Linked DNA regions of Homo sapiens: regions 1 and 2 are each linked to region 3. Evidence: fine-mapped QTL for protein levels in blood plasma. A gene starts in region 3. Each other region holds a variant in brackets. All regions are shown on one strand. Distances are from middle to middle. Region 1 overlaps CPVL (carboxypeptidase vitellogenic like). Region 2 holds the start of LOC128966558 (a long non-coding RNA gene). Region 3 holds the start of CPVL (carboxypeptidase vitellogenic like).

The links. PIP is the posterior inclusion probability: the model's chance that the variant is causal. Protein levels are from antibody-based Olink assays in UK Biobank. Linkage for the fine-mapping came from a reference panel and not from the study's own genotypes, which makes the PIPs less certain.
Region 1: its variant is fine-mapped to the plasma level of the CPVL protein (UK Biobank, PIP above 0.99). The variant lies in the coding sequence of CPVL. If it changes the protein, the assay may bind it differently, which can mimic a change of level.
Region 2: its variant is fine-mapped to the plasma level of the CPVL protein (UK Biobank, PIP above 0.99). The variant lies in the coding sequence of CPVL. If it changes the protein, the assay may bind it differently, which can mimic a change of level.

What each region holds. Positions count from the first base shown.
Region 1 is chr7:29,088,536-29,096,716 of GRCh38, forward strand. It overlaps CPVL (carboxypeptidase vitellogenic like), which reads right to left. Exons shown (of 13, transcript NM_031311.5): 4 at 7,568-7,682; 5 at 6,549-6,607; 6 at 4,088-4,167. Among named protein-coding and RNA genes, the nearest start is that of CPVL-AS1, 12 kb to the left of the region's middle. The variant A/G (reference allele first, on the strand shown) is at 4,128.
Region 2 is chr7:29,117,088-29,125,268 of GRCh38, forward strand. CPVL (carboxypeptidase vitellogenic like) reads right to left here. Exons shown (of 13, transcript NM_031311.5): 2 at 3,806-3,984. The coding sequence starts at 3,974. It overlaps LOC128966558 (a long non-coding RNA gene), which reads left to right and starts at 5,348. Exons shown (of 3, transcript XR_008485572.1): 1 at 5,348-5,555. The variant C/T (reference allele first, on the strand shown) is at 3,901.
Region 3 is chr7:29,143,502-29,151,653 of GRCh38, forward strand. CPVL (carboxypeptidase vitellogenic like) reads right to left here and starts at 3,036. Exons shown (of 13, transcript NM_031311.5): 1 at 2,928-3,036. It also overlaps a transcript of CHN2 not described here.

The sequences.
Region 1 (8,181 bases), 55 kb before region 3:
AAATTTAGTAAATTAGATTTACATATGCCATTTGCTCATTTAACTGTATTTTAGTCAAGAACTCTTCTTATTACATGGTGAGCATTTTCTAGAAAATAGAATCTAGAATCAAGCCCACATGAAATTACAAATTTTAGAAGCAGATCTGCTAAACATATATATAATACATAAGTGGCCGGGCGCGGTGGCTCACACCTGTGGGAGGCCGAGGCGGGCAGATCACGAGGTCAAGAGATTGAGACCATTCTGGCCAACGTGGTGAAACCCCGTTTCTACTAAAAATACAAAAATTATCTGGGTGTGGTGGTGGGCGCCTGTAGTCCCAGCTACTCAGGAGGCTGAGGCAGGAGAATTGCTTGAACCTGGGAGGCAGAGGTGGCAGTGAGCCGAGATCACGCCACTGCACTCCAGCCTGGCGACATAGTGAGACTCCGTCTCAATAATAATAATAATACATAAGCATGTGTGTTCACAAGTGCACACTCCATGCATTTATTCAGGTACAAGAGCTACATGGCACAAGAAGCATGCTTCTTCTTGGTGATTCCATTTGGCCACCTTGCTGGCATTGTGCTAAGGACTTGTCTCATAAACAGAATTTTAGTTAAGGGCTCTCTGCTCGCAGAAAGGTACCTTAAAGGACCAAAAAGAGAAACAGATTGCAAGGAAGAATGACTAGGAGAAAATTATTCCTCAGATAAGTTTTTAAACAGAGATTGGGTGGATGCAGGGCAGAAAAGGTGAGTGGACATGATCATGCATTGTAGACCCAAAGACAGCACTGGAATCTGGTCAGTTCTAATAGAGTCAGAAGCATAATCATAAACACAAGCAACATTCAGGATAATCGAGTTTCAGATAATCTAAGCAAAAGTTCCATGCCAAAAAAGCCAAGCAAAGTGTACCTACAGTCACTGGCAGTGGACTTGAGGTAAGAGGTGGGACTCAACTACAAAGGTAGGGCTTGGACACTGGATCAAATTGAGGACTAGCTAAGACAGGGCCTGGGCGGAAGCAGCTTTCCATAAGACATGCCTATCAGTGGGCCATGTCAGTTTACCATTGTGATGGCAACACCCAGGCGTTACCACCCCTTTCCATGGCAATGACCCAAAGACTCAAAAGCTACCATCCATTCCCTAGAAAATTCTGCATGAACCAACCCTTAATCTGCATGTAATTAAAAGTGGGTTTAAATACAACTGCAAAATTGCCCTAAGCTGCTACTCGGACTAGGCAGTAGCCCTGCAGGAGCAGACACGGAGTTGTAACACTGCCCCTTCAATAAAGCTATTTTCTTCTACCTCCATCTCACCATTGAATTCTTTTTTTTTTTTTTTAATTGAGATGGAGTTTCGCTCTTGTTGCCCAGGCTGCAGTGCAGTGGTGTGATCTCGGCTCACCACAACCTCTGCCTCCCAGGTTCAAGTGATTCTCCTGCCTCAGCCTCCCAAGTAGCTGGGATTACAGGCATGCACCACCAAGCCCAGCTAATTTTTCTATTTTTAGTAGAGATGGGGTTTCTCCATGTTGGTCAGGCTGGTCTGGAACTCCTGACCTCAGGTGATCTGCCTGCCTCGGCCTCCCAAAGTGCTGGGATTACAGGTGTGAGCCACCACACCTGGCCACCCTTGAATTCTTTCCTGGGCAAATCCAAAACCCCTCACAGGCTAAGCCCCACTTTGGGGCTCATCTGCCTTGCACTGGACCGATACAAGCTCAGCAACAGGAATCCTGGCAGTGCTGCTCTGTTGGAACCCGTGAAGGGAGCCTCTTCTGCATTCACTCTACATCTAGCAAGGCTGAGCCATGATCCTCTCCACCTGGCACAGGACACAGAGTTTTCTCATTTAATATAGGAAGCCTGCTTCCTAGCTGCATTGCTATGAAGCTTTGTTTAGCAACACTACATATCATTTCCCATTGCAAACCAACATGTAGGAGAAAACTATAGCAGCACTTCCATTTGGCTGCTAAGAAAATAACTATAGGTCCACCACTAGACTGAGCACCAGGAGGGCAGGGGGTTTGAGGACTGCTTACTACTGTCTCACCAGCACCAAGAACAGCAGCTGGCACATAATAGGCAATTGGTAAACAATGGCAGAAGGAGATTGGCACCAGCTAGTGTACTCCAAATCAAAGTTAATACATTTCATAATTTGTTTTAAACCAGAGAGGCATTGTGACTAAATAGCATATTCCAAATAAGAAAAGTGGGAGAGTATTTTAACATCTTGTTCGTGAAAAAGTTTTATTTCCAAACACAAAAGCAGCAAAACTGTGAACGGTAAATGTCTCCTTACAGCCATGCACTATTAATAGTCAAAAAGAATGAGATTTTCTGAAAAAAGAAAGTTGGTTTTCAAAGGGAGAAAATGAAAGCTCCACTCTTTAAACCTGTAGTAGCCCATTTGCAGGTTTTGAAGCGACCCTCTTATTCCAAACACCCATCTGGAGAGCTGGAGAGAAGAATGTGGTCACAAAGGGAAATGAATAGTGTAAACTATAAAGGAAACAGCTGAAATCAGTTTTCTGCACCACCCTTGATTAGCTATTTTCCAGTTCTAAGAGCCCGAAGCAAAAAGAACTACAACAGCTATAAACAATAGATGCTTTGAAATAGGTTCCCTTTACATGTCAGGAAAGAGGAGATGGACCACATGTCAGCAGTCGACATCCCCATATGGAGGGGCAACTGGAAGCTGTAACTGTCTTTGGGGGAGGGGAAGGAAAGACAGAAACGGCTTGGCAGTGATGCTCTGTCTTAGAGGGGGCCCGATGCATCTCTTCAATACAGAACCTCTGCCCTCAGGGTGTTTGCTAGTTAACCACTGAGCTTGTTTGGATTTAAACCAAAGAGGGATGGGAGGTGGGGGCGGGGAGTAGGTTTCTAATCTGAAGAAAGAGAGCACACAGTGCCAAGAGAGCCCTGGCCCTGGCTCTGAAGAAGCCTGTGAGGAGGACTGCCGTCCGTTACGTCTGTGGAGGGAAGGGGAGGAGGTGCTGGGGGGAACACCCCGTCAGCATCTTGGCAAATATGTCCCTAGGACCCCACTGTATGTGGAAGCAGAAGTGTGGGGCCCTGGGCATCCCCCTAGAAACTGAATAGAAGTGATCGAATCATGGAACATGTGAAAAACAAACAAAAGTGGAGAAGACAACAGCCATATTCTTTTCTGGGTGGGCAGAGGGAGAGATCTTTGGGAAAGGGGCTTGGAAGTAGTTCTTTCTTCTCTCCCCCCGGCCACCTATCTGCCTCAGAGAGAAAGAAAAGTAAAACGGAAAGCTTTTGTCAGAGATCAGCAAACTCTGACTCCTATTAGATGCACTTTCGCTTTGAGGATTGGTAGTAATTAACAGAGTGCTTGGTGGAGGTGTGGGGTAGGGAGCTAGTTAACTCCTTCTGGCCACTAGGGTTCTTTTAGTAAATTATTATAATACATAAAGCGGTGCCCTAGTGACCAGAAAGAATCTAGGACTTGGTCTCTAGTAATAATTTGTAGACTGGAAAAATCTGACCAAATAAGAAAGGTCACTTGCTTTTTTTTAAAAATGCTAAAAATAGCAATGATTAATATGAGTGAAAAAAGGGAGAAATTATATGGACACTGTTTGGCCAGACTTACAACTTTACATTTTTCCTTTTTTTTTTTTTTTTAAGCAAAACAAAACTTTCATAAGAAGAAGAGAGAATACTAGAGACTAACAAGCTAAGTTTTCAGCCTGGAAAAGTCATGAAATAGAAGCAAAAAGTAAAAAATTGCATCCAAAAGCCACGAAAAGAAGAATCCTGAGAAACAAACAAATATCTGAAAAGATGTTGTCTCCCTGCAAATGCAAAGTTAAATACAAATTTGGAAAACAAGTAGAAACCTTTCAGATGTCTGGTTGAAAGGTTTAAAAAATAATCTTTAATTGAAAAATTCTGCTCTGTGTGTGTGGATGTGAAAATATCCTTAAATTATCTTCAGGAATTGGACTATAAGGCTCAGTCAATAAAAATTCCAACACTAGAATAATTTTCCTATTGAGATAGAAAAATGTTTGGTCTTAGGAAAGCCAAGAGAAAGCAGGAGCATTTTACCTGTATAAATCCCGTGCTACATCGTCCTCATTGACTGCAT[A/G]TCCGTGGGTATCATCAGTAAAACTGAAGCCTGTGCCCACCTGCAGGAGAAATAAACACGCAGGTATAAACACAGAGAAACACATGCCTTAGGGACCTGCAGAGAGGTCCCACACTGGAAGGTGACCTTGTTCCAAAGGCCAAGCTCAGACTTCAGATTTTTGCCGTTGCCCCCCTATGCCTTTAGCCCTCCTCCCAGGAGGATGCTAGGTGCCACCTATTCTCTCCACCCCCTAAAGCCCAAATAAAACAGCAACACAGAGCTTTGCCCTGGGGTCAGTGGCTGAGCTGTCCTGTGCCTCAGTGGAGACCCTGCCAGATGTTGATTTAAGGAAGAAGGATTCATCTTTTCCATCCCCTGCTACAGTATCAAAAGATCCAAAGTTGTCTCCTCTCTGAAACCTGGAGAGTGCATGGCTCTGTCCTGCCAAGAAGAAACTCTTGGTTGGCGCAGTGGCTCACTTCTGTAATCCCAGCACTTTGGGAGGCTGAGGCGGGCGGAACACCTGAGGTCAGGAGTTTGAGACCAGCCTGGCGAAACCCCGTTTCTACTAAAAATACGAAAATTAGCCGGGCATGATGGCGGGCACCTGTAATCCCAGCTACTCAGGAGGCTGAGGCATAAGAATCACCTGAGCCCAGGAGGCGGAGATTGCAGTGAGCTGAGATCATGCCACTGCATTCCAGCCTGGGTGACCAAGCGAGACTCCGTCTCCAAAAAAAAAAAAAAAAAAAAAGAAAGAAACTCTTTAGGCTGAAGAAAAAGGTAGTTGTACATTGTCTTCCTCTTCTTCTTCTTCCTCCTCCTCCTCCCCCTTCTTGTCTTTATTTGCAAGAAATATGGCCATTAAGCCATTTCATCTTCAGTAGGTAAGGAGTTTTAACATAATTAAGACTAATTTTAAACTAATATTTTCTTATTAGAACCTAGAAGTTCACAGACAACTGAACTGCAAATTCAAAAGAAACTGAACTGCAAATTCAAAAGAAGAAGCTACTATTTTTATGTCAACAATTTGCATAAGGAATGCACTCCCTATCTGGTATAAAGATTTTTGTGTTTTTGTTTTCCAAACACCCAAGGATGTTTAATTCATCTTTTACTTAAATACACAGTTATGGATGAGGAAAATGGAAGGCTGACAAAACAAGGTGGGGGAAAGAGCATGTTGACATTTTTTTCCGCTTTTATTTGTGTTCTTTTGGACCATCTGAAAAGTGAGAGAAGTTAAAGATTTTAGTTAAGAGGGCAAAGATACTCCAAATCTGTAGAAGCTGACCCTAAGTTTCTCTCCTATTTTGCACCTTAATAGAACCAATATCAGAAGACCTCCCCAAGGAGAGTATCACTTTTTGTCCAGAGATGAAGCATGTTGCTTGTCTTAACAAGTGAAGGAGGCCAAGAGCAGTAGCTCATGCCTATAATCCCAGCACTTTGGGAGGCTGAGGTGGGCGGATCACTTGAGGTCAGGAGTTCAAGACCAGCCTGGCCAACATGGTGAAATCCCATCTCTACTAAAAATACAAAAGTTAGCCAGGCATGGTGGCGCAAGTCTGTAATCCCAGCTATTCAGGAGGCTGAGGCAGGAGAATTGCTTCAACCTGGGAAGTGGAGGTTGCAGTGAGCTGAGATGGTGCAACTGCACTCCAGTCTGGGTGACAGAGTGAGATTCATCTCAAAAAAATAAAAATTAAAAAAAAAAAGTGGAGACCCATTTTGACTTTTTATATCTATAACTCTATGTGAAAGATTAGACGATTGTGAAAGATTACAAGTTCTGACACTATATAATAACCTGTGATATAAGGAACCCAAACTGTTAGTGAAAAGAAATGAATTCCTCCTCCTGGGTTACCTAATTCAGTGAACAGGACATCTCATAGGATTAAAAATAAGGAAATGGGCCAGGCGTGGTGGCTCACACCTGTAATCCTATCATTTTGGGAGGCCAAGGCAGGTGGATCACCTAAGGTCAGGAGTTTGAGACCAGACTGGCTAACATGGTGAACACCCCCCACCCCACGCTCCCATCTCTACTAAAAATACAAAAATCAGCCAGGTGTGGTGGCACACGCCTGTAATCCCAGCTACTTGGGAGGCTGAGGCAGGAGAACCAGGTTGAACCGGGGAGGCGGAGGTTGCAGTGAGCTGCCAGCCTGGGCGACAGAGCGAGACTCCATCTCAATAGAAAAAAAAAAAATGAGGAAATGAGAGAAGGCAGCAAGGAAAATTGCCAAACTCCGATATGATTATACATGTTAACAGAAAAACTAAATCTCAAAATGGTTTTAATTTTACAGATTAAATTCTATTTTCAAAAGGAAAAACGAAATCTATTTTTTAAATGTACTTAATAAAAAGGAAAAAATAAAAGACAGGAGACGCCAGCACTGACAGCTCACAGGGTCATCCCGGACTTACTGGATTGTCAATGTAAAGCATGGAGAGCGTTGTGGTCCAGGGGAAGTCTCTGTCACGCACTGTGAAAACAAAGAAGAGGGGTGAGATAGAGTCGTGGACAAGCATTCCACCGAGGCCTCATGGTGGTCAGAAGCCCAACACACCCCACGGTCCTCATGAGCTGTTGGCGTACCCTCTAACAGTGCTGCACACTCTCATGGTGGGGAACAGGCACCTGCACCTTTACCCTCCCCACTCCTCTCCTTTACTTTCCCCCAGCCCAGAGTGTTTCTACACCTGAGATAAAGCTTGGAAACAAAACCCAGCAAAAGCTTGGAACAAAGCTGGTTCATGAAAAAACACCCACCAACCACCTCTGCAATAATATCCATATGTCCAATTAAATCAATCATCCTTAATGCTCCATCTCTTGAACAGAACTACTTCAACAAAACTGGCACATAAGCCTTTATACTGAGTCACAAACTGGCTCACACTCCAAATTCTGACCCAGGGGAAGTAAACAAAATTAAAAAAAAAAAAAAACAAAATGAGATGAAGGTAAACTTAGTGACAGCCAGATGTTGCTCTTTCTTTATCCTTCCTCCGCCTCAGCCCCCACCGGGAATAGCGTCTTGCTTCCAAGTTATCAGATAATGAGTGTGACTGAACCATAAAGTGTTTAGTTCATGTGAGTAATTAAGAATATAATTCCACCCATTAGTCCACTGCAAAGAGCTGTCCCAAATAGTAATAAATACCAACTGTTTTGCAAACCCAGAATGCTTGAGTCAGCAGCAGACTGCAAGAAAGCGGATTAGAACTTTTCACCCAAATTTCAAGGGAGAAAGCAGCCCAGTCAGGACACTCACCCCGAGGCTCCTCCTTCTCGGATGGATATTGCCAGAAAGTTGTGTTTTGATAATCTGGAACGGTTAAGCTATTCATAGTGGTTCAGTGTTTACTCTAAATTAGTTTTGGAGCAGGTATGAGGCTCAGATGAAAGATTCTATAGGAAATACAGTGCAAGGGATACTTACAGGTCATGTTACTTGTGACAACATAAGGCCCATGTTCCACAAAGAGTCCAAACATGGATGAACCTCCCGGCCCACCCTGTAGCCAGAGAACTACTGGGGCATCTTCTGGCTGTATCTAGAGGAAACAGTAAAACCAGTGACCACACAGAACACTCACTTAAGGCTACAGAACACACACAAGCAAACTTACCCAAATCCTCTCTGTGTTACAGGGCTGTGACTAAATCCTACAAAACCTCCCCAGACCTCAGTAACCACTCTCCACTATGAGCAAAGTACTGATCATCTTTGGTTCTTTGAATGAGGCTGTGCCTCATATGCTGGTGTCTTCTTATCATGCAGTCAAGTCTTTTCCCAACAAGAGACAGAAAGCTCCTTAAATGTAGATGCTTGGCTTGTGCATGCTGCCAGACATCTAGCATACTGCCTGGGGCATGGTTATATATTTTTAGCTGTTTAAACTAAAATTTGGGACTCTTCCATTTAACACACATATTCCCAACAGAGGCACAACAAAGAATCCATTCTCAGTGACACCTTCCCTTCTGCACTGAGAGCCCAAACGCCTTTCTGATTTTACTCACTAAGAACGTGTTCACAGCTGGTCGCGGTGG
Region 2 (8,181 bases), 26 kb before region 3:
TTTGAATCAGCCACTTAAAATTCTGTTCAAAGAATTTGACTGTGTAACATAACTTCAGGAAGTGATATTATACACAGATTTAATATTTTAAATGTTGTCAATCATCAGATGAAGATCTACCAATCTTGACATGGGAGGGTGGAAGATAAAACTACCTCCCTTGGAATCTTTCTTGGCTGCTGCTAATACCCATAACTGAGAAATGCTCATAGGCAAGAAAGACAAGAACAGGAGAGATGTCAGTAGTCTCTCAGATGGATTTCTCTGTATTCTTTTTACTTGGTTCCACCAGATGTATGATACAGAAACACCATGGTCACTTTCACTTAATGCCTTTGTTTAAGCTGTTTCTCTCATTTGGTACGCACAGACCTTTCGCTATTTACGTAAATCTTACCCGACACTCTGAAGTCCAGAGCTGGTCATACAGCATAGTGGTTCATATCATGGGCTCTGGGGTTGGCCAGTATAGGGTTTAATTCAGAGCTGCTCATATAGCATAGTGGTTCATACCATGGGCCCTGGGGTTGGCCAGTATAGGTTTTAATTCAAGCTCTGCCACTTACTAGTTTTATGGCCCTAGGCAAGATATTTGATTTCTCCGGGCCTCAGTGTTCTCATTTGTAAAATGGGAACAATGCTTATGGATTCTTCATTAGGGTTGCTCTGAGAACTACATGAGCTAATGGATGTAAAGCACAATGCCTGGCACATGGTTGGTACCCAAATTTAAATTCCATACATATTTATACATACCTATTATGTATAGGTACTATGCTAGGTACTAGGGATATAATGACTAAATGTTAGCTACTTATTATTTTTACAACTACGACAGCTCTAGTATTTTCTCCCTCGATTATGCCAACCGACAGGGATAGGTTCCTCCTCCGAATCTCCAGTGCACTTACTTTAAATGTAATACTTTAGTACTTTAGTATGCACTGCCTAATTCCTTAATTGTTTTGTGTGTATGCATCTGGTCACTTTAGAAGAACACTTTAGAAGCTTCTGAAACAAACAGAACTAAATTATAGTAGGCAAATCACAGAGCAGAAGTCAGAAGATTTGGGTCCTAAACCCATCTCTGCTACCCAACTCTACTGCACACATCCCGTTGGGCAACTCGGATAAAGTATTTCAGTCTCAATTTCCTCATATGTGGATTGGTAGAATTTGGTTATAACAATTACTTAACTCCTTTTCATCCCTACATTAAATGGTTTGCTTTGATTTACTGTTAATGAACAGAAATCTAAGCCATCAGAATCCACTTGTTAAGGAAGCTGAAATACGTGCATGTAATCCAATTTGGAGGGTTTAACGACACTTTGCCTCTTCACAAGCATCTTAATGGTATCAGCCCATATGGTGGGGCAGCCATCTTCCCAAGACTTCTCTTGTGAGGTAAAAATCAGTCCTTTTTAAAATACACTAAATACATTATCAAAGTTTTTCATCTTTCCTTAGAAAAGAGATGGTGAAACTTGAAGCCAATGTGTATTTCAGAAAAAGACATATGAACAGCACTTACACATACCCTTAAAATACAAGAATGTCTTCGTGTAAAACGAAAACCAAAAAACAATGACATCCTATTGGCTGTGAGAACACTTTGAACGAATAAAACTTGCTTTATTTTAAACTTCTTTATAGAGTATTTAGATTTGCTTTTGATCTTTAAAATGACCATTTGTCTAAAATTTCCGGTGTTCTTCTTCATTCCCATCACATCTGCCAACCTGCCAGCTTCACAGGCACCATCTCTGCCTTCCCACCTGTGACAAGGGACAACCTTGGGGCCCCTGTGTGCCAGATCCCTGTCTCTCACCTTCTTAAACACAGTCTCCAACAATGGTTCCCCAAACCAAACCAATTCCCCACTCATCATTTCCATCAGCAAACAAACATTCTCTCCTATTCTGTTAAAGACCCTTCCTGGACCCCAGTGCTCCCTCCAGCCACTACCCCATTTTTCTGCTGCTCTTTGCAAACAGCTCCTCAGAATAGCTACCTGTCTACTGTTTTATAGCTTAGGAACCTACTGAAGTCCAGAAAGTTGAAATCATTTACTCGCACAGTGATTAAGCGCAAAGAAGCATTAAGAGCAGATACAGGGCCGGGGGCAGTGGCTCACGCCTATAATCCCAGCACTTTGGGAGGCCAAGGCAGGCAGATGACTTGAGGTCAGGAGTTTGAGACAAGCTTGGCCAACAAGGCAAAATCCCATCTCTACTAAAAATATAAAAATTAGCCGGGCGTGGTAGCACATGCCTGTAGTTCCAGCTACTCAGGAGGCTGAGGCAGGAGAATCGCTTGAACGCAGGAGGTGCAGAGCGCAGTGAGCCGAGGCTGCACCACTGCACTCCAGCCTGGCAACAGAGCAAGATTCTGTCTCAAAAAAAAAAAAAAAAAAAAAAAAGAGCAGATGCAGGTCATAAATTTTAGCCTCTGATAACACTAAGTGATACCTTTTTTCCTATTGGTAATAACAATAGAAAAACCCACAATCTCTAAATAAAGCCAATTGCAAACACTCATATTTGGAGAACAACTTATAGAGTACAAAAGATTTTCACGTGCCTTATCTCATTGGATTTTCATAACATCTCTGTAAGTTGGGTAAGTTGTTAAAGCTCCATCTTATCTTAATGAGAAAACTAAGGCCCAGACTTGCTGGATAACGGGGCACAGCAGGGAGGCTGCAGTGAGGCTGAGTATGAAGCCTACACACCAGCTGATATCTGCATGAACTCTGGCTAGTAGCTCAATCTCTTTCTGCCTTGGTTTCACATGTGTAAAATGGGTCCACCTCCCCGGGATGTTGAGATGTTTAAATAAGTTCATGCAGAAAGCTTGGAACCAGTGATTGACTCATAGTAAGTTTTAAGGATAGTATTAGCATTAAGTGACCACTGGGGGACAGGCACTCTACTAGTCTTATAAATAAAATGCTGCAACTCAACCATGCAGGTAATTCAACCCCGGCTAATTCTCATTTTAGCTAAAAACTCAGACAACATATGACATCAAGTCATTAATATTTGACATAGGCTGGGTGCGGTGGCTCATGCCTATAATCCCAGCACTTTTGAAGGCTGAGGAGGGTGGATCACCAAAGGTTAGGAGTTCAAAACTAGCCTGGCCAACATGGTGAAACCCCATCTCTACTAAAAATACAAAAATTAGCTAGGCATGGTGGTGGGCACCTGTAATCCCAGCTACTCAGGAGGCTGAGGCAGGAGAATCACTTGAGCCCAGGAGGCAGAGGTTGCAGTAAGCAGAGATTGCGCCACCGCACTCCAGCCTGGGCAACAGAGCAAGACTCTGTCTCAAACAAACAAACAAACAAACAAACAAAATATATATATATATATTTGAAATAAAACAACTGAGTAAAAATACTGAAATATATTTTGCATCCTATGGGTTACTTGTTTTAAGAAAAACTATTGGCCAGGTGCAGTGGCTCACAGCTGTAATCCCAGCACTTTGGGAGGCCGAGGTGGGTGAATCTCGAGGTCAAGAGATCGAGACCATCCTGGCCAACATGGTGAAACCCCTCTCTACTAAAAATACAAAAATTATCTGGGCATGGTGGCTTGTGCCTATAATCCCAGCTACTTGGGAGGCTGAGGCAGGAGAATTGCTTGAACCCGGGAGGCGGAGGTTGCAGTGAGCTGAGATCGCGCCACTGACCTCCAGCCTAGTGACAGGCGAGACTTCGTCTCAAAAAAAAAAAAAAAAAAAAGAGAAACTGTTGAACTCATGCCAGTGGTTTTCTGATTTAATTAAACTTACTTACCTTTTTGGATCTTCCCAGCTTCAATGTAAGGGGTGAGAAATAATGGCTGTCCTGAGTCTCCCTTAGGTGGCATGGAAACACTTCTGTATAGGGAG[C/T]GAAACAGCCCATCACAGGGGCCAGGCATCAACAGGACCAGCGAAACAATCACCTTCCACATGGCACCAACCATCTCTCAGGGTCTAGGATAAAAACAGCATTCCAAAAATGAATCATAAGAGTAAATATTTACCTGGCCCTTTTACATGCAAGAAATTCATTTATTCACTTAAAAAAAATATTGTGTGTAAAGGCCCTCTGCAAGGACCTTGGATAGCACCATAAATAAGCACACCCAATCCCTGCTTACTCTTAAATTCAAAGGCTAATGGGAGACTCTTCAAGGGATTTACAGTGTCAGTAATTTTTCAATTACTGATTTTTTTTTTTTAAACAGAGTCTTGCTCTGTTGCTCAAGCTAGAGTACAGTAGCACAGTCACGTCTCACTGTTGCCTTGACCTCCTGAGCTCAAGCAATCCTCCCACCTCAGCCTCCCAAAGTGCTGGGATTATAGGAGTGAACCACTGACATTTTTTAAAATGCAGTTTGGAAAGTAAATTCAATGGAGGATTAGATAAAGACTCAGAACAACAAGAACTCTGTAACTGACCATAAATGGGTGGTAGAAACCATTATGCCACCACAGAAGGGCAGAGGATTGAAAGCACATTTCAGGCCGAAAGATCACAGAAAGGCCTTATCCAAGTTGGATATGGATAAAAGGTGAATGGTTCTCAGACAGGTGGGAGAAATGGGAAAGGCATCATGGGTGGGTGGAAACAGCTTAAGCAAAGGTGAGACCTCAGGCATCCATGCACACCTTTCAGGGAAATTTCAAAGAAGCAATGGATTTCTGGTTATGTTCTCTATCTCTTATAAAGCCCCAGTTTGTATCAAAGAACAACAACAACAAAAACAAAAACAGGAAGGAAGAAAGAAAGGGGGGAGGGTCCTACAACTACCCTTAGGTTCCTCCCCTTATTGCTAGCTGATAAGTAAATTAAAGACATTAGGCCCCAAACCATTAGCACAAAGCTTTCCAAAGATCTTCAGATCTGATGTTTGCTTAGAATATTCATCTGAGATTATAATAATAATGGCATAAAACTGTATAATTATTTACTTGAACATCAATATGTAAATTATATTTATAGTGGGCTTTCCCATGTATTTGTAGATGATTTGAATCTCCTAATTCCACCAGTGTTACAGAAAAACGACTGAATGGTATTTGTTAAAGCATGGAGACAAAGACTTTGTCAGGATAATGACAGGCACAGGGACCTTGCAGTCAACAGTCTTGCAGCAAGGAAGAGAGATTGGGCTCAACTCCAAATGCAGCACGGGCCAGTGGGAATTTATAGCCAAGGAGCAGTGTGGGGGTCAGTGGATGGAAAATTACTCAAAGGAAGCGTTGGGGTAAGGTGGATCTGGCTAAACCTAACAGGATTCTCACTGAAGACAGGCCAGGGTGATCAGACATCACCTGGGGGATGGTGCAGGATGAGAAACCTGGTCAGACATTGAGGCGATCGGATGTTGATGTTGCTGGTTCTTGGTAAAACGACTTAGCTAGTGTCCTTTGCTAAAACTGGATTTTACAAGGACGTGCACAAACAGGCCTAGCAGGAGATTCAGAAGCCTGACTAAAATTTGGCCAAGGAAAAAAATCCTTGTCACCAGGAAAGTGAGGACTATTGTCACCAAATTCAGGTAAGGAAAACTTGAATCAAAAGAGTGTCTCATGCAAGGACATGAAAGTAGAGAAGGCCAGGACTAGGGAGAAGCGAGGGAGGTACAGATGCAGGGTCAGATCTCATCTTGATCTAAAATGTTGACCATTTTTATTATCATTAATTTTTCTCTGCATTATACAGTTTTTTAACTATTACATTAACATATTACTAGTCTTGAATTTTTTTTGACACTTTCTTAAGTTTTACACCTGAGGTAGTGCCTCTCTTGTCTCACCCTAATCCTGACCTTGCTAAGTAGGGAATTATGACAAGCACACCAGGGCCGTTACATGACTCTGCACTCCTGCTATTTAAGCATGATCTATGTTCTTAGCTGTAAATTCTAAATCAAATACATGAAATGAAAGGGTACTCCACACATTCACATTTCTGGATGCAAAAAGAGATACACAATTATGCAAATATAATGCCTGCTTTTGTTCAGTGCTTTAAAATGCCAAGCCATTAGAACATCTTAAAAATACAAAACGTGTAAAAATCTTTTAACGACATGCTTATTACAACCCAATTTGGCATAACATGAAAATATTGGTTATAGCAAATTTTAAAAGCTTTTCAGGCACATTTCCCCAGTAAGATAAAGGTTTATAATTATAATGTGATTGAATATATAACCCTTGTCATGTCTCTCAGGGTTAACTTACTAGAATTCCCCACACTTAATGTAAATAAGGCCAACCAAATCCAGGATGGAGCTAAAAAATGCTTTTGCCTATTACTGACTATAATAAAGAACAAAATGAATTTAGGAACTGAAATTAGGTTCCCAAGAAGCCCCAGGGTAATGACCTCTATGGCACTGTGAAAACATTTTTTTAAATTACTTGAACTTGTTTACACTGATGCTTTTATAGCACAGCTACTTTCAAGGGATGCCTGAAATCAACAATCTTACTCTCTAACTGGTTCAGAAAAAAAAAAAAAAAAAAAAAAAAAAAAAAAATATATATATATATATATATATATATATGCAATATTAAAAAAAAATAATGGAAGAAGCTCTTCCAGTAAGAGGTTTTTGTTTTTTTTTTTTCCCCTGGGGACAGAAACAAGAAACCAATCATGCCATCTAATTTCTCAATCTTCCTGCTGCCAATCCCTAGCTCCCTTTAATGGAAGCCATTAATATTTAAATAACCAGGGTAGTTACAGCACTTCCCTTGTAAGCAGATGTTGACTCAAAGATGTTAAAAAAGGAAAACAGGTAAAACTGGTCCTGTTTTAATTGATATAAATCTAATACATAAAAGTAAGAATTGGGTCAATTTAGTAGATCTCATTAACATTTAATCAAATAACTATCTGAGTCATGGTTTCCCATTCAGGTGAATTAAAGCACCGACATACTTCATTTTACAGTTCTCATTCAACAGTCAGAATTCCTGAACTGTGCTTAGCTGTTATCTCTCCTTATGAGAATGAAAGCTATTATCATAAATGGAGAAGTGGGTTTTTTAAACACCCTCTCATATGTTTTTGCTTATCCTAAATTAGCATGAGTCCTTTTATTTATTGAACATTTATTGAGCAATTTCTAAACCAACAAACCTTATACTAGACAGAGGATATCTCCCACAGAAAGTTGAAAAAGAAAATTGTTAACCCTACACTTTATCATACCTACTTGAAATAATATGAAAACAGTGGTGCTATTTCCAGTTCAAACATATCATATTGAAGAATTCAAACAAAATGTTCTTCTTAATAAATGTTTAGAAACAGAATAAAATCTGGGTAAATACAAAACAATATCAACAGAATCAAAGACTCTAAAGGTCAAAAGTATATAATTTGCTAAAATTGTCTTACTAAACCTTAAATATTAAAGTTGAAAATCATGTGTCCAATGTATGATTTTTGATATGGAACAAAGCTATTTATCCACAGTGTTCTTTAGAATAATAAAAATTGTCAATAAATAAAATTTCCAACAGTAAGACATCAGATAAGTTACTATATACCAAAAAGATAAAATTATTATACATACAGCAATTAAAATGATTCTACTAAGAATGTTTTGAAAAATATGATAAAATATTATTAGGTAAAGAAAAGCAGGATATTAGATTGGATATATGGTTTTTTTCCTTATTTAATACTTCTTAATAATTTCTAAATTTTCTACAAAAATTTTATACTCAGAAAAAAGGTAATTTTGTTGCTTTTTTAAAAAAACAAAGTGAAGCAACTGCTAGACATGGCAGAAAAAGTGCTTATTCCTTATTACTACCTGGGTATGACCTCTTCTGTTTCCTAGGAATAAGGTTCTATTTGTACTTCTAGAATAGCTTCTTCTTTCTCTAACATTCTGTTAAGATATGTCCTGATCTCCTAAAGCCACAGAATCCCAGAGACTCAAAGTAAATTTTCTCTTCGGCAAATCAGAAGGCTCTGCATAAATGTGAGATGCTATTATAATAATATTTATTATCATATCTGAATTTCATTCTGCCTGGAGTACAGTTCATAATGAGAGTGCATATAGTTGGTACTAAGCAAATATTATTGAATTGATGAATCTAAATAAGGAACCATATTTTAGACCTACAAGATATTAAATGTTCATGTGGTCCAGTTCCTTC
Region 3 (8,152 bases):
GCTTGGGACCTGGGTTACATTCTCTCCCAAGAATCATACAGTACAAAAAGATATGTGGCACTATCTTTTTGAAAGAGGGGTAATGGGATACAGAGTCCCAAAAAGGAAAGGAGGAAGAGCTTACCTTTAGGGTTCAAAGTAAATATTTTGGCCTGTAAACAATTCTAAGCAATTTAAAGACAACCAATAACTAGAATCAGACTAGAGAGAAAAAGGTAGGAGGTAAGTTCCAACTATATTGGAAAGATAAGCTGCTAAGAATTTGCTTTTTCAGGCTCCAAGATCTAAGGACACAGTCCTTCCCCCTCTTTCACTACCACCACCCTGTCCTGCACCCCAGGGTCTGAGTTAAAGCAATGAAAGCATGTGATTTCATGTTCAAGGTTATACCTCTAATATCTCTTAAGGGAGAGCAATCTCAATACCCTGGTTTCAGTTCAGATACGCTGTAACAGCTGTCTTGTGAACTGTCTATTAAGGCTTACATCTTTGAGCTTGCAAATATAGTATAAAAGTTCAAACTCCACTACTGTTTTTACCAGGAAAGTACAGTTCTTAGCTTTTTGCCCAGCTTACCTCTCTCACAAGTCAATATAGACGTTAATGAGTCATTGTTCTAGAGGTATCTTTCTAATTCTGAGAAGCTTGCCTACTTCTTTTAAATGTTCTTAGTTCAGTCAATGAAAATCTCACATTATAAAGCCATCGGAAATGGTAAACTAAAACAATCATGTTTGCTCTTTAGTGAACCATACTTCCTATTAAGAAGGGGTCACTGGCCAGGCACAGTGGCTCATGCCTGTAATCCCAGCACTTTGGAAGGCCGAGGTGGGAGGATCACTTGAGGTCAGGAGTTCGAGACCAGCCTGGGCAACATGGCAAAACCCCATCTCTACCAAAGATACAAAAATTAGCCGGGCATGGTGGTGTACACCTGTAATTCCAGCTACTCAGGAGGCTGAGGCACAAGAATCCCTTGAACCCGGGAGATGGAGGTTGCAGTGAGCAGAGATGGTGCCACTCCAGCTTGGGTGACAAAGTGAGACTCTTGTCTCAAAAAAAGAAAGAATGGGTCATTACTATTTACCTTGAGTATTTGGGTGCTAATAAACAGATATCTGATGATACCTGGGGCAAGAACTGAGTTCCTCCCCTCTCATTGCCTTAGTTCTGTGCATCCCAGGGTAGTATTCAACACTCAGTGTTTCCTCTGACAAACTAGATGCTTCCCAAAACAAAAACAAACTCATTTTTAGAATTCTGTTATATTATTTGCTTCTTGTTTTTATTTTTTGTGGGGAGTGAACTGGTAAACCCAGTGGACTTTCTTAACACTCTTCTAAGTCATTCAAACTGTCAGTCAAAACCCACCTATTTCTCAGGCTAGTAGAATCCCACTATAAAGTGATTTATAAACTGGATTTATATAAATTGGGGGATCAATTGCCCCTCCCAAACAATCATCTCCTATAAAAGATTAATAAAACAACATCTGGTTAAGAACACTGACACTACATTATAAAGGGTTGCCCCTGTACTTAGACTAGCATGAGGTACACATCTAGAATGCCCAGTTAGCCAAACGGTCTTGACGACCATGCAGACTTTCATATGCCAACAAAGCCGGTGCAGTGTACTTTTCCAAAAGTGCTCCAATTCTCCTTTTGGACAACTTTCTTAAACGTTATTTACCAAGCTAATAAAATGTATTCTCAATGGACTTTTTACTCTGCTTACATCTTTGTTCTTACTCATCCCAAAGCAAAGAATGGAAAAAAAATGAGTTGTACATTTAGCCGGGGAAGGGAAAGGCAAGTACTGAGGGGCTCCTTTTTCATTTACTGATGCCAAAACTGAGGCTGTGGAAGATAAGTTACGTCCCTGATGTCATCCAAGTAGTGGATACCGGAACCAGGAATTGCACAGAATTGTCCAGCTCCAAAACCCAAGCACCTTGCTTGGGACCCACTGGGGTTGCAGTGAAGGTGGGGGGCTCAGAGGTGACTGCACACGGGTCATGCATAGCCACAGTCATTATATGGCCAGAGTTTTAAACATTATTTTGTTCTGTCTTCACCATAGACTTCATCATCAATCATAACTGATAAGGAAAATTACACTTAGCTGAAAAGCCAAGTCCCGTGCTAGGGAGGCATTTTCTGTATGTTATTTCTATTTCCAATAAAACAATTCTTTAAAAAGAAAAACTTATTATCTCCATCTTTCAGATGGAAAGACTGAGGTTTAGTAGGCTTAAATAATTTGCCCGAGGTCACTCACTAGCCAAGGCCAGAACTGGGATTTAAATCCACAAATATTCCAAAGTCCTTTTGTTTCTGTATCACTTCACAGGGAGCTGCTTCCACCTGTCTCCTGTGCCCTTGGTTTCTGCTAATCCTACATTCCAAGAATAAAAGTCTTCCTATGCGTTCCTAGGCAGAAGCCAAGTTTCCCTGCTTTGGGCACGTTCAAAATAGAAGGTATTTTCCGCTTCTCTTGCTTCTGAGCACCCACGAAATCAACACATCCCCAAAACACGCGTTGAGGGAGTAAGGGAAAGTGTCCTGCACCCGCCACCCTCCCGCGCTAAGAGCGGCAGAGGACCCCACAGCTTCGTACTTCCCCGGAGGAGCTCCTGGAGTAGGAGACGGCTTCTAGCCTGGAAGAACCCCGGGTGCGACAGTTGTGCCAGGAAACTTCAAGAGTATTCCCTCGGCTGGGCGCACGCAGTACATCCCCAATGCTCCAATTTGAACTTTGACTCGGCCACGACCACCCCACTCCAGTCTCACTCTACGGTGCTTTCTCCCCTGTTGGTGCTGAGGGCTTTTGAGACTACCTGCCCCGCGCTCCCTAAGTCCGAGGGACCGAGGCGAGGACCTGTCCCGCTGAGCTGGCACGACCCACGCAGGGCAGGCGGCACTTACGCGGCGCAGTCGGTGCTCCTCCCTGAGCCGCGGCGCGCAAGGACCCCAGCCGGTTGTCCTTGCAGCGCTTCCCAAATCAGGCAGAAGTGAGGCAGCCCCACCCAGTCACGAGGACCCTGCAGAACTCGAGCCTTTAAGCGCTCCTCTAGGCTCACATGACCCAGACCCACAGGGCAAAAAGTGCGTCGTCGTGTCCCAACCTCCTGGTCCCAGAAACCTGGCCGCATCAAGTCAGCGCTTCCCATGCTGGAAGAAGCAAGCAGCCCCAGGGTGGAATCTTAAAAATTAATGAAGAGCATCGGCGGGGTGCCATTCAGGTTGGTTTGTCCCTTTGTTTTATTTTGATTTTGTCTCCCAGTTTTTAAAAGCTGCTATCTTAAAATTTCAACCCTGTATTTTGAAATTATTTCTGCACTCTAGGACTTACTTGCAAGCCCAGGATTTACATTTGGAAAGCGAGTGGTGTTTGATTCCCACTGTTTAAAAAGGCAACACACGTTCGCTGATGGTCTACATTCCAGCTGCACTAGCAGTAAGCTCGCACCAAGTGCCACTGTCCTGCCAAGCACTCTCCTGAATCACTGCGCTGGAGTCTCAGAGCCACCTGATGTGTTCTGTACCATTATACCCATTTTGCAATTGGGGGACACAAACTAAGTGAGGTTAAGTAACCCATCCAGGGTCACATTGCTTGTAAGTGACCTGAGTGTATATTATTAGCCACCACCAGGTGCTGGGCATCGAGCCAGACAGTACGGGAGCAAGAACTAAAAAAGGCAAGGAGGTTGCAATGGCAAGTAGATAACACAAAATAAAGGAGGGTCATCATTATCAGCAACAGCAGCGTCAACTGCCAGACAGGTGGGAGAGGCCACGGGGAATCTTCTGCACTGTCCCGGGCCAACCTCCATCTCCTCACAGCTAGCTGCAGGAGTGAGCCCAGGGAAACCCGCAGTAGAGCAGCCCAGCCAACCCGACAGTCAGGGGGAAAAATTGTTTTAAGCCACTTTCAGTTTCGCGTAGTTTGTTATGCAACTAAGGCTAACTAAAGCACTAGTTTTACGAGCTGGAACAAACTAATGTCACTGAATATCTGTTTTCTCCTAAGTACCTACTTTATTGGGTTGTTGTGAGGACTCACTGAAAAACTATGTGTAAATCACCCAGCACAAAGTATGTGCTCAGTGACTGCAGTCATTCTTTGCTATCATACCTTCCATATGGAAGTACTTCCTACCCACCTAGCTCTTTAAGGAGAAAAATCTGTTTGTGGGAAAATAATTCTTTTAAGGCCAAAATCAGCCCACCTTTAATATATGCAGGACCCAGGGCAAAAGTACAAACAGAGATCTGTAGGCCAGATACCTAAATATTTAAAAGTTATAAACAAAGTTAACAAATGATTAAGTACAATAAGTTCTACCTTCCTACCTAGACAAATATACCTTGGGAATTGACATGAAAGGCCAGATTGAAACTTTGGATGATCTGCACTTAAATATGATGGTGCAGGGAGAGGCGATTTCCAGTTCCTGGTTTGCAGCCACCTCCTCTCTTCCCACAGGGCTCTAGTCCATTGGTGGAAGCTCGGTCAAGCTTCCCAGAAGCAGCTGTCCCCCAGCCACCTCTTGGGCACAAGAGTATGAACACCAGAGTCAGCAATGTTCGCCCATGGGAGTACAGACATTAGCAGATAACACTGCTGCTGGCGTGCAGACCCTTGAAGCAGGCTCAGTGCCATTTGGGGAGGGAATTTGGAATTTGCCTTCTAAAGTGTGGGCCCTGGACAAGGGCTCCTTGGGTCTAAGTATAAGGACAACTACTGGCCAAAGAATACCTGTGCCCACGTGGAACCACTTAAAAACTAAACTGAATTTTACAGTAAACACAGGAGGAGCCATGCTGTAAGCATATTTATTCAAAAACAGGGTGTCCCAAAAGTCTTCCTGCAGTTTTAGTAACCTCAAGGCTATAAATGCTGCAACTTATAAGAACACCATTTGAAAGTTAATTTAACACTATTTATCTCTGTGAATGTTGAATAACACGTTTTAACTTTAATTTTTGTTTCAGTTCCCCTGAGTGAAATATGGCATACATTAACCAGAAGAGAAAATTACATTTATTAAAATAATTAAAACAGAGTCAAAAGAAGTAAACGTTCAAATGAGTTTTGTAAGTTTGTAGCATTTCGACTTAAGAAGTTATTAAAGCTTAAAACTGCACTGACCTTTTTGGGGTACCCTGTATTCGGATTTGTCGTGTGTCAGGTTCTGTGCTAGACACTTGATTAAAAAGAAAAAACAAGAAAAAAGATAGTCTTCTTTAGGGAACTTGAAGTTTAGTTGTGGGGAAGGGATGAAGGGGACACACAGATTGATCCCATCATACAATATAAGAGCTGTAATTGGGGCTGATAAAGTGTGTGTGTGGGGGAACAGAGGACAGGGACCAAATGACTCTGCCCGAAGAGCCAGGGGAATCCTGTCAGAGGAGGTGACTTGAAGCTAGACATTAAAAAATGAATAGCCACTGAGGGGAAAGGTGGCAGCACAGGCAATGAGCAGGCCACCTGCACTCAGGTTGATGCTGTGCTCTTGGACAGATGGACTGTGCGACACCAGGCGTGTTCAGGGTGGGTCGGGGGTTAACTAATACTGAGGTTAGAAAATTAGACTGGAGCCAGCTTGGAAAGGGCAAGAATGCTGAGCTCTAGAGACTGATGTTGTTCAAAATTAGTAGATTGGGAAGTCTGTTTCCCTTTTTTTTTTTTTTTTTTTTTGAGACAGAGTCTTACTGTGCCGCCCAGGCTGGACTGCAATGTCGCAATCTCAGCTCACTGCAACCTCCACCTCCCGGGTTCAAGCGATTCCCTGCTTCAGCCCCCCGAGTAAGCTGGGACTACAAGCACCCGCCACCACAGCCAGCTAATTTTTTGTATTTGTAGTAGACACGGGGTTTCACCATATTGGCCAGGCTGGTCTCGAACTCCTGACCGCAAGTTATCCACCTGCCTTGGCCTCCCAAAGTGCTGGGATTACAGGTGTAAGCCACCGTGCCCAGCCTGGAAATCCATTTTCTTAATGAAAGAGAATAAAATAGAACAAAATAGTACAGAACAGAATAGAACCATAGGACAGGAGTATGTGCTTTCCAGGGAGGTTGTAACTGAGCAGCTATTAACAGTAGAAATTTATTGTCTCATAGTTCTGGAGGCTACAAGTCTGAAATTAAAGTGCCAGCAGGGCCAGGTTCCCTCTGAAACCTGGAGGGGAAGGATCCTTCCTCGCTGCTTCTAGGTTCTGGTAGCCCCAGGTGTTCCTTGGCTTGTGGCAGCATCAACCCAATCTCTGCTTCAGCCTTCCAGGGCTTTCTCTCTGTGTCTTTTCACAGTGTCTCCCCTCCATGTGTCTGTCTCTGTGTCCCAATTTCACCTATTTATGAGGACACCAATGACATTGGATTAGGGTCCACTCTAATGACCTCATTTTAGCTTGATTACTTCTATGAAGACTCATTTTCAAAATAAGGCCACTTCACTGCTGCAATAGATATTTTTAGCCCTTCTCTTGTATTGAGAATATTCAAAGGTTGGCCAACAAATCGGTTTGCAAAGAGATTCGTTAAGCCTTCTTTGATTGGCTTTCCTGAAAACAAGATTTAAAACTGTCAGGTCGATCACAAGCCCTTGTGTTCTCTGCACCTGCATATTCTAGTGAGGTTTGGGTTTGTTAAGCCCTAGTGGTTCAGAGCATGGGTCAGACTCAGTTTGAATCTAGAACCTTGCACCTAATGACCATAAGCAAGTTACTTAATCTCAGTTTTCTCATCTGTACATGATAAAAATACTATTAGCTATCTTGCGGTATTATCAAGAGGAAGAAATAAGATAGTAGTACATATAAAGTGCTTGTCATATATAAAGGCTCAAAAAATGGCAGCTGTAACAATAATAATGGTGATCATGACAATCAAGATTCTAGGCTGTGACTGCAGTTCTTTCCAACTGTCTATCCAAGACAACTAAATTGTATCTGGACACCACACAAAAACATGCTTCTCACTGACCTATAGCCGGAGCTTTGCTGAACTCCTTAAATTCCAGTTAAGAAGACACAGAGAATAGATCATTTACACATCTTGATCAGGTAAATACAATTCCAATTGTCTAAGTTTGTAGGTCTGATTTTACATTTGCAGCTGCTGCCAGCAAGATAAATGTGGAGCTGCAATGGAAACAAGGGGAATTGATTAACCTTGTAGGCAATCATGCCCCTCTTGGAAGTGTCTAGGTCTCTCCCTGCACTTGTCAAGGCTTCTATAGCCATTGTTCCTTTTCAGTGTTGTTACTGATCTTCAATGGGGCCACCGGGTAGCCTGGAAACACAGCTCAGAGGCACAGCGAAAAGAGAAATGTCACAGCCCCCATGCACCACAATTAATTGTTCAATAAACACTTTTCTTAAGGAACGAAGCCAGATGTGTCACACCCACACACTTGCAAAACAACACTGTGCTATTAAAAAAGGGAGGGGTGGGTGGTAGATCCAGCTGAAGAAAGTCTACAGCTGTTCTGCACCTCAGCTATAAGCATTGAAGGCTTCATTAAGTGAGAAGTAGGCCCAGGTGGCGGTAACCAAGCTCTAAGACACAGACACATGCCCTGATCAACTTATTGAAGTGCTTCAGTCTCCTTGTACTTGGTAAGGAAGGGGCACCTCCTAAGACTAGCCACAGGCTACAGACTCCAGGGAAGTTGTGGATAATTACATGGTAATTATTTCTAATAAGTGCTTCCACTCTTAGCATGATTATCCTTCCCTGGGTTGCTTGCCTCCTTATGCCTGGTTTATGTAGGGAAACAATGTCCAAATTAATCTACGTCTTTTGTAAGTGAGCCTATACTCCTTTGACGATCCAGATGGTTTAGCGCCCTTTAGCAGCAGGTGTTAAGGCTTTCTTACAAAAGGCATATTTTCAGTTTCCCTTCGGCTATGGAAAAAGCCAGGCAAATAAGACTTCGGTGATTTAAGGATAAATTATGGGATTAATATAGACATGGCCACTAAGGACAGCTGAGCAAGCCCTGTGTAAAACCAAGAGAAATAATCATAGTGAAACTTTGTAAGGATTTTATGGTTTGCCCAACACTTTTTATATATATCATCTCTTTTAATTTTCACATCAGCCCTGCGAGGTATATATTGATATTATGATGAACCTGC